Homo sapiens: one gene and its partners. The protein of the gene in region 1 interacts with the protein of each later gene in a pairwise test. Each region holds a gene or a part of one and is shown in the gene's direction. Other genes may lie near its edges. The genes, in order: BDNF, ANXA4 and LBP.

Region 1 (3,660 bases):
GATAACCAAAGAAAGTCATATTGTTTGTGCTTTGTGTTATTCATGGAAGCAATCAGGTGCAGAAAACTTTCTTTTTCAGAAAAAAAAAATTACTAAAATAAAGGTGCGTGTGTGTGTATGCACATATATCTAAAGGGAGAGAGGGAGAAGGAAACTTACTAAATAAAATTTTTGCCACATGGGATTTAGTCTAATCAGTCTTGGTTTTGGAGTTGCTATCATCAGTAGTTCCATTTTGTGATTCTTTCTTTCTGCCTTCATGTGCCTTTGAAAACTGAAACTATGCCCAAATTAAAACAAGTTTTTCTGTCTTTTCACATGTTCACTTATTTCTTGAATGTGTTTTTAAACACAGACAAACTTCTTTTACATCATGTAGAATCTGAAGGTCGAGAAATTTGCAGTCATTTTGCTGGAGAGAGATGCTTGGCGGAGTCCCAGGCCACATTCCTAGGCCAAACTCTCGAAGGTATTCCTCTTATGCAACATTGGGAAAATACATCCAGCACCGACATGTTGGCTGATAATGTGTCTGAAGGCACAGACGATATGCTTATCATATGAAACATAAAGCCAGCAGATATTGCAGACATTCTGTTGAATGATAGAATCTGGATCATTTACATTTACTTAAATGTAAAATACTATGATTAAGTACAAAAAAATCAATTTAGGAGAGAATAGAGAGTTGCGGGCACGGTTTTAGGGGATGACTTATCAGCAGATTGTAGAAAGGAAGCTTGAATGTTTTAAATTAACTGCAAGTTCAGTATAAGCCAGTGGTGTGACAAGAGGCTGTTATCATAGCTACTGAAATTTTGGGCTGCACTGCTAGAAATATAATACTGAAATGGAGAAGCTAATAATTCTTCACTTTTTAAATAGACTGTATCTAGAATATTATCATCAGTTCAAGGAAATGAAATAAGTTGTTTTAGGTACATCATCGATAAATTAGTGTACATTCAAATCACTGTGACCAGGATGCATAGGGAATTTGAAAGCATTGCATGTGAGCAATGGTTGAGGGGACTTGGAATGCATGACTTAGGGACAAGAAAACTTAGGCTGGAATGGCAAGTGGTTTTTGAATGTTGGGTTGAGAAGAATTCTAAAACTGTGAAGGATTAGTAAAAATAACATTCAGATTGCTAATGCCTACTGTGGCTGGGAGATTAGAGTGTCAACATGTGTGATGTATTTTTGACATCCTTATTTTGAGGATGGGCTTCAAAGATTTGACGAACTGTCATAAGTGTAATTTGTGTTGCTTCAGACAGCAGTTCTAGAACCAATGATGTAAATTTAGATACTCTACATGGTAGTTAGAAAACTTTCCATTAATTTAATTTAGCAAATATTGAATGCTCACTGCATACAGAGCACTTTATTAGAGGAATATATAATAAAGAAAAAAGAGGTCTGGTGTGGTGGCTCATGCCTGTAATCCCAGCACTCTGGGAGGCTGAGGTGGGAGGATCACTTGAGCCCAGGAGATCATTACGAGTCTGGACAACATAGCAAGACCCCATCTTTACAAAAGACAAAAAAAATTATCCAAGCCTGGTGACAGGCACTTGTAGTCCCAGCTACTTGGGAGGCTGAGGCAGTAGGATCGTTTGAGCCCAGGAGGTTGGGGCTGCAGTGAGCCGTGATTGTCCCACTGCTCTTCAGCCTGGGTGACAGAGTGAGACCCCGTTGGAGGGAAGGAAGGGAAGGAAGGAAGAAAGGTAGGAAGGCTGAAATGAAACCCTTTTAGAAATGACACTAAAATGGGAGGTTGGAGTAAGGTATTTTCTGAAGTGCCTTTGTACTTGTTTTTTTCTAATGCATTGGCCATAAGTCTGCTCCTTATTTATAGTCCATAAACAATCCTAATGAGAACAGTTATATATTTCTGCCTTTGAATCATCTACTTGAAGTGTTTAGCATCATGAATTGAGTATCAGAAATCCCTCCCATTTCTTTGCAAAGCGCTGTATTTTACTTTTCCTTATTTGTATACAGATTCTCAAAATTGGCTATTTTTCCTTTGGGTTAGACAGAACAGAATGTCTGGAAAAAAAAGTTCTTATCAAATTCAGGTGCCCAAATTGCTTAAGAAATTAACTTTTGAGGTTATATTTTTTTAGGGTTCAGTAGCTAAACTAAGAAAACTTCTCACCGTTCACCTTCACTTTTGGAAACCACAAAATCTTCAGATATTACAGTTTTCCAAAGAGTTTCTCTTTTTAAATATAAACTAAAAGGAATTGACTCCTCCCCCAACTCCCTCAGGCCTCAGCATGGATAGAGTTACTTTTTTTCTTTAATAATTTATTTATAACTTATTTTGCTCTTCTGTAGAACAGCTGGAGATTAAGCAACATGGCCATGACATAAAATGCAAGTTAGACCATAAGATGAGCAGCCCACTCCAAGTATGAATGAGTACTTATTCTTTGTGATCTCTCATACTGCTTTTAGGTATTAATAGTGTCAGTCAGCAAAGCAAACAGTTTAATATTTACATCTCCTTTAGGATATCATATAGTTTATAGTTTGTATGTGTTCTTGCGTGTATGTTTTCTTCTGTTTCAAATTCTTTTTTCTTAAAGTAAGAATGTTATATGTAGCAAATGGTTCTTTCATTAATTCATTTGTTAATTCACCGTGCATTAATTGAGTGCCCAGTGAGTGTCAGGCACTGGGCTACTTGGATTTCTTTTCCCTGTATTGATCCATATATCTTCAGGTGCTCCTTGATATGGCTCTCCATTGACTCTCTCATATAAGGCTTTCATTACCTATTCACATACTCCCTCCCAAAGAGGACTGGTCCAAAAGTAAAATCTTGAGCAAGTTCTCTGAGTTATTTCAGAACTTCTTGCCCCCAAACTGTATTTTTAATTATTGACTGGTAGCATTTTGGAATAACTTACCTCTCTTTTTTAAAGATTGAAGTTCTTTATCCTCTCTGATTTTCAGGTGTCAGTTTGTGTACAAATTGAGACAATAAAAATGTTTGTTAGACATTTTCTTAAAGCATTTTGCTATGTGAGAATCTTTCATGAAGAACTCTTTTTAACAATGACTCTATAGCAGAAGCCACAGTAGAGGGAGAACTACTGAATCAAAGATGGTGTTTGAGTCTATGATTTTATGATGGATTTTTTTTTTTTTTACATACAAGGATATGCATGGGTCTTTTAGTATTCAGGAATCTGTTCTTCACTTGACAGTATTTATAAATTGTGTGTTTCCCCCTAAAAAAACTTAAATTGTGAGAATGCTTCCATTTACTAGAAGTTGGTTAATGATTATGCCAAATAAGGAAAATAAGACAGAAAAATCAGTTTAGTGAATACTATTTTGCCTTTAAATTTAGTAATTTAGTAACAGTATCTCTTTGGGGTTTACTAGAAACCACTTTTTAATCCAATAGGTCTCTTTCATTGTGAAGTCAGGAGGTGATTTTGCTTAAATGTGTAGTATAGGAATCTATATGTGGTGTTCAAGGATCATGTAAATATGCTGATATAATCGGAGCACAGTTTGGCATCATTAACTCAGAAATATTTAAACTCTTGCTATACAACATGGAAGCAAACTTGTGCATAGTTTGTGTGTGTGTGTGTGTGTGAATCTCAAAAAAAGAAAAAAATCACAGGATCAGGAAGT
Region 2 (2,899 bases), on another chromosome or scaffold:
CAGCACTTTGGGAGGCCGAGACAGGTGGATCACTTGAGCCCGGGAGTTCGAGACCAGCCTAGCCAACATAGTGAGACCCTGTCTCTACAAAATCAACAAAAATTAGCCGGGTGTGGTGGTGCACGCCTGTAGTCCCAGCTACTCAGGAGGCTGAGGTGGGATGATCACCTGAGGCTGGGGAGGTCGAGGCTGCAGTGAGCCATGACTGTACCACTTCAAGACTCCAGCCTGAGTAAAGACCCATCCCAAAAAAGAAAAAGAAAAAATTTTAACATAGAATGACCATATGAGCCAGCAATTCCACTCTCAGTTATATACTTAAATGAAAACAGGAACCCAAACAGCTAGTTGTACATCAACATAAACATTATTAACAATAGGCACAAGGTGGAAACAACCTAAATATCCATCAACAGATGACTGGATAAACAAAATGTATATACATACATAAAAAGCAATGATATTCAATGGTACGCTGTCATGAAAAAAAGGAATGACATTTTTGATACGTGAATGAACCTTGAAAATATACTACGTGCAATAAATCAGACACAAACGGACAAATATTGTATGATTCTGCTTTATGAAATATGTAGAATAGGTAGATTCATAGGGACAGAAAGTAGATTAGAGGTTACCAGCAATTTGGAGGGAGAGGAAAGAATGGGAGTTATTGGTTAGTGGGTACAGAGTTTCTGTTTGGGGTGATGAAAGGGTTTTAGAAATAGACAGTGATGATGGTTACATAACATTGTAAAAGTAACTAGTGCCACTTGAAAATGGTTAAAATGACAAATTATATATATATATTTTTTTACCACAAGAAAAAGTCTCTGAATTTGAATAAAATTGTTTAATGAAATGTGAAAAGAATAGATGAAGTATAATACTTCATCATAGCATTATTTATATTATTTACATGGCTTTATGTTATTTATATTTATATCAATAATATGGTATTATAGTATATAATTTATTATATATTGTTATTACTATTAATCAATAGGGAATAACAAATTATGGAAAATCCATACAATATAATACTATACCAACACTAAAATGATTGAGTACAAATATATTGATTGGCTTGGGAAGAAAACACTATAATCTAGTGTATATATGTCTGTATATATAAATATGTAAATATATGTGTGTATACACACACACACCACTAGAAAAGATTAAAAATAAAGAATACATTACTCATTCAATAATAGTTGTCAAAAGAAATGAAAAAAGCAGAATAGAAGCATAAAATATGTAAATAATAGAAAAAAATGACAAAAGATAAAAATAAAAGTTATAAAAATAAATAAACTCTCAGGTTAGGTAAAAATATAAAATCCAACTTCATGCTGTTTATAAGAAACAACTAAAATACAGTGACATGTAAAAAGCTTAAAGAAAAACACCAGGGAAAGAAAGAAAGCGGACATACAAGAAAGAAAGCGGAGATTATGCTATTAATAAAAAGAAGAATTTAGGGAGAAAAAGTATTAAATAGGAGAAAGTGGATCACGTTATACTGACAAAGGCAACAATTCACAGCAAAGATTAAACTGTTATGAAACTTTCAGTACCAAATTATATTGCATTCAAATGTATAAATAAGAAACTTGAGGCTCCAGAAGAAAACATATAATGGAATTAGTATGCTAGCGAGAGACTTTAATACATCCTATGCTTTGGCACATCAATGAGGCAAAGTATAAACAAGGATATATTAAGATTGAGCTTAACAGATACTTATTAAACTTTGAACCCTATATACAGAGATTCCATCTTTTCTAGTCCCCACGAATGACTAATAAAAATTAATCTAGGCCAGGTGCAGTGGCTCACACCTGTAATCCCAGCATTCTGGGAAGCTGAGGTGGGAGGATCACTTGAGCCCAGGAGTTCGAAGCTGCAGTGAGCTATGACCACACCACTGTTCTCCAGCCTGGGTGATAGAGCAAGACCCTGTCTCTAAAAATATAATAAAAATAAATAAATAAAATTAAAGATTAAAAAATTAATCAATTATTAGACCACAAAAATTTATATGCAGAAATTATAGAACCTTTCCGGAAGACTGTTTTGTAACCCATATCAAAATGTTTAAGAAAACAGGCTGGGTGCGGTGGCTCACACCTGTAATCCTAGTACTTTGGGAGGCCAAGGTGAGTGGATCACTTGAGGTCAGGACTTCAAGACCAGCCTGGCCAACATGGTGAAACCCTGTCTCTACTAAAAAAATAAAAATTAGCCAGGCGTGGTGGTGTGTACCTGTAGTGCCAGCTACGCAGGCAGCTGAGGCAGGAGAATCACTTGAACCTGGGAGGCGGAGGTCGCAGTGAGCCAGGATTGCACCATTGCACTCTAGCCTGGGCCACAGAACGAGACTCCGTCTCAGAAAAAAAAAAAAAAAAAGGTTTAAGAAAATGCATTTAGTCCAGTAATTCCCATTTTATGAAAATTTATCCAGAATAAATCATTAAGAAAATATACAAAAATGTAACTACAATATGCTTATTGAAGCAGTGTTTATAATAGTGAAAAATTGAAACAACGTAAATATCCAACAATAGGGAGAGGGAGGATGTGATCAAATAAATTATTTTACCTGCATACAATGGGATATTCTGTAACCATTAAATAATGTTGTAGAATAATATTTAACAAAATAGGGCCCTAGCACGGTTGCTCACGCCTGTAATCCCAGCACTTTTTGGGAGGCCAAGGCTGGCAGATCATGAGATCAGGAGATCAAGACCATCCTGGCTAACATGGTGAAACCCCATTTCTACTAAAAATACAAAAACAAAATTAGCCGGGCATGGTGGCAGGCGCCTGTAGTCCCAGCTACTCAGGAGGCTGACGCAGAAGAATGGCGTGAACCCGGGAGGCAGAGCTTGCA
Region 3 (3,660 bases), on another chromosome or scaffold:
GAGTAGCCTACAGACCCCAGCATTCAGTCTTCCAGGAGTACCAGCAGGAATGGGGAATACTGATCAGTCCAGCCAATCTGTTCAGGATGACCATTAAGAACTATCTACAGGCCGAATGTGGTGGCTCACGTCTGTAATCCCAGCACTTTGGGAGGCCAAGGCAGGTGGATCGCCTGAGGTCAGGAGTTCAAGACCAGCCTGGCCAACATGGTGAAACCCCGTCTCCACTAAATATATAACAATTAGCTGGGCGTGGTGGCACATGCCTGTGATCCCAGCTACTTGGGAGGCTGAGGCAGGAGAATCGCTTGAACCCAGGAGGCAGAGGTTCACCCAGGAGGGTGAGCCGAGATCGCAACACTGCACTCCAGCCTGGCCAACAGGGCGAGACTCCATCTCAAAAAAAAAAAAAAACAAAAAAACTATCTACATTAACTGTATGTTTATTTGTGTTTATTTCTAGTTAGTGTCTAGTTCTGCTATTAAACTCTAAATTCTGAGAGGCCAGGACCTCCCAAAGGAAAACTTTGTAATGGTGGAGTTTCAGGCACTGTCTCCAGCCAGTGCCCCCTCCTCAGGCTGTGTCAGTGACTCCCTAGCTCAGGTGTCCAGCCCTGGGACAGACTGAAAAGTCCAACTGGACCCTAGTGGAGTCCACATGGGGGCCCACATAGTTTTATTGTTTGTATTTCCTTGGTACCTGGCTCATGACAAGCACTTATAAATATTTGTAAATCAGTGATCACTGAGCACATGTGTGGAATAATGTGACTGCAGTGATCAGCACGGGGCCAGACCAGAGCTGGGGAACTCACTCAGTCATTCTCTTCCCATGTTTTTCAGATTTGCGAAATGATCCAGAAATCAGTGTCCTCCGATCTACAGCCTTATCTCCAAACTCTGCCAGGTAGGACACCCCATCCATCCCGGGACACTTTTATTTCTGTTAATTTCTATAAGAGCATATATATATCTTATAAAATAGTAAATGGGGCAAAAATATAGAAAGTAAAAATTAAGGGCCAGGCGCAGCGGCTCACACCTGTAATCTCAGCAGTCTGGGAGGCCGAGGCGGGTGGATCACCTGAGGTCAGGAGTTCGAGACCAGCCTGGCCAACATGGTGAAACCCTGTCTCTACTAAAAATACAGAATTAGCCGGGCGTGGTGGCGCATGCCTGTAATCCCAGCTACTCGGGAGGCTGAGGCAGGAGAATTGATTGAACCCAGAAGGTGGAGGTTGCAGTGAGCCAAGATCACGCCATTGCACCCTACCCTGGGCAACAAAGACCGAAACTCTGTCTCAACAGAAAAAAAAAAAAAAAGAAAGTAAAAATTAAAAGTTCATTTTTCTCCCCCACTTTTCTTCCAAGAAGTAACTTCTGTTTTGGGTGTATCTTTTCAGATATTTTCTTTGTATGTACAAATATAAATACATGTAAGCATATAAATAGACATTCATGTATGTATTATTTTGTTCATGAATCTATGTGTATATGTATTATTTTAAATATATATGTTCATATACATATAGTATAGGCATTGTTCCAGATTTCTTTTTTTTGAGATGGGGTCTCACTCTGTGTCCCAGGCTGGAGTGCAGTGGTGTGATCTCGGCTCACTGCAGCCTCAAACTCTTGAGCTCAAGTGATCCTCCTGCCTCAGCCACCTGAGTAGCTGGGACTACAGGTGCATGCCACCACACCCGGCTACTTTTTGTATTTTTTGTAGAGACAGGGTTTCTTTATGTTGCCCAGGCTGGTCTCGAACTCCTGGGCTCAAGTGATCTGCCCACCTCAGCCTCCCAAAGTACTGGGATGACAGGCACGAGCCACTGTGCCAGCTTGATTTCATTTTTAAAAACTTTTTATTGAAGTATATTTATAAAGAAAAGTGCTCAAATCATAAGTGTGCTGTTAAAGAGTTTTTACATGCATGTAACCAGCTCCCAACCGAGAAACAGAACACGGCTGGTTTTTCAGAGCCCCTGGTGTCCCCCTCGGTCACTGCCCAGCCCTCCAGGGTCACCACCATCCCAACTTCTACCAGCAAAGATTAGTTTTGCACTTTGCACATGAATGGAATCAGACAATATTTTGAGTCTCTTTTCAAAAGCCAGAAGGCTTTCTTTGTTCAACTTTAAAATATGAGGTCAGGGCTGGGCGCGGTGGCTCACGCCTTTATTTTTTGTTTTCTTTTTTTTTTTTTTTTTTTTTGTGAGACGGAGTCTCGCTCTGTTGCCCAGGCTGGAGTGCAGTGGCGCAATCTCGGCTCACTGCAAGCTTCGCCTCGCGATTTCACGCCATTCTCCTGTCTCAGCCTCGCGAGTAGCTGGGACTACAGGCGCCCGCCACCACGTCTGGCTAATTTTTTTTGTATTTTTAGTAGAGACGGGGTTTCACCATGTTAGCCAGGATGGTCTTGATCTCCTGACCTCGTGATCCGCCCGCTCGGCCTCCCAAAGTGCTGGGATTGCAGGCGTGAGAGCTCACGCCTGTAATCCCAACATTTAGGGAGGCCGAGGCGGGTGGATTACCTGAGGTCAGGAGTTCGAGACCAGCCCAGTCAACATGGTGAAACCCCGTCTCTACTAAAAATACAAAAATTAGCCAGGTGCCGTGGTGGATGCCTGTAATCCCAGCTACTCGGGAGGCTGAGGCAGGAGAATCACTTGAACCTGGGAGGCGGAGTTTGCGGTGAGTTGAGATTGTGCTACTGCACTCCAGCCTGGGCAACAGAACAAGACTCTGTCTCAACAAAGAAAAAAAATAATAAATAATAAATAAACAAAATAAAATATGAGGTCAGGTCAGGCTTGGTGGTGCACACCTATAATCCCAGCACTTTGGGAGGCCAAGGAGGGAGTATCACTTCAGTTCAGGAGTTCAAGGCCAGCCCGGGCAACATAGCGAAACCCCATCTCTACAATAAATACAAAAATTAGCCAGGCATAGTGGTGTGTGCCTGTAGTCCCAGCTACTTGGGAGGCCAAGGTGGGAGGATCGCTTGAGCCCAGGAGGTCAAGGCAGCGGTGGGCTGAAATTGTGCCACTGCACTCCAGCCTGGGCCACAGAGTGAGATCCTATCTCAAAAAGAAATGAAATAAAATAAAACATGAGGTCCATGCATATTGTTGCATGCACCTGTAGTGTAGCTGGTTTATTCTCCTTGCTGCATAGTATATCACCATGTAGATGTTTCCCCATTTATTTGTTCATTCTACTGTTGAAGGCCATCTGGGGGGTGTTCAGTTTTAGGCCATTATCCGTAGTGCTGCTATAAATGTCCTAGTACCTATGGTCGCATGTCTTTGGGTATATATCTGGGAGTGAAATTGCAAGCTCGTCATATCATGTGATATGCCCAGATTCAGCATTATAAGATCCTGCCAAACAGTTTTCCAAAGTGGTTGTAACAGACCTTATTTGTTAACAGCCGTGTAGTGTTCCATCACATGGATGTGTCTTCATTTATTTAATAAGTCCCCCACTGATGGACATTTAGGTGCTTTGCTGTCCCTTGCTATTGCCAACAGGGCTGCAAGGAGCCATCTACAAGTGGAGTCTCTGGATCCAGGGTGCACACATTAAGCTCGGAGGGGGAGACCCTGGCAAATTATCTGAGATGTTCTCTGATGCCTTAGCTCCTAAGCCCCTATGCGG

The links.
Region 2: the proteins of BDNF (region 1) and ANXA4 interact in binary tests that used the Homo sapiens proteins (3 or more experiments, as listed by UniProt).
Region 3: the proteins of BDNF (region 1) and LBP interact in binary tests that used the Homo sapiens proteins (3 or more experiments, as listed by UniProt).

What each region holds. Positions count from the first base shown.
Region 1 is NC_000011.10:27,690,402-27,694,061, reverse strand, and holds part of BDNF (neurotrophic factor BDNF precursor form isoform a preproprotein), read left to right. Parts: intron 1-2,921; exon of another isoform or gene 2,922-2,956; intron 2,957-3,660. UniProt on the Homo sapiens protein: Important signaling molecule that activates signaling cascades downstream of NTRK2. During development, promotes the survival and differentiation of selected neuronal populations of the peripheral and central nervous systems.
Region 2 is NC_000002.12:69,822,110-69,825,008, forward strand, and holds part of ANXA4 (annexin A4), read left to right. Parts: intron 1-2,899. UniProt on the Homo sapiens protein: Calcium/phospholipid-binding protein which promotes membrane fusion and is involved in exocytosis.
Region 3 is NC_000020.11:38,359,861-38,363,520, forward strand, and holds part of LBP (lipopolysaccharide-binding protein precursor), read left to right. Parts: intron 1-843; coding exon 844-907; intron 908-3,660. UniProt on the Homo sapiens protein: Plays a role in the innate immune response. Binds to the lipid A moiety of bacterial lipopolysaccharides (LPS), a glycolipid present in the outer membrane of all Gram-negative bacteria.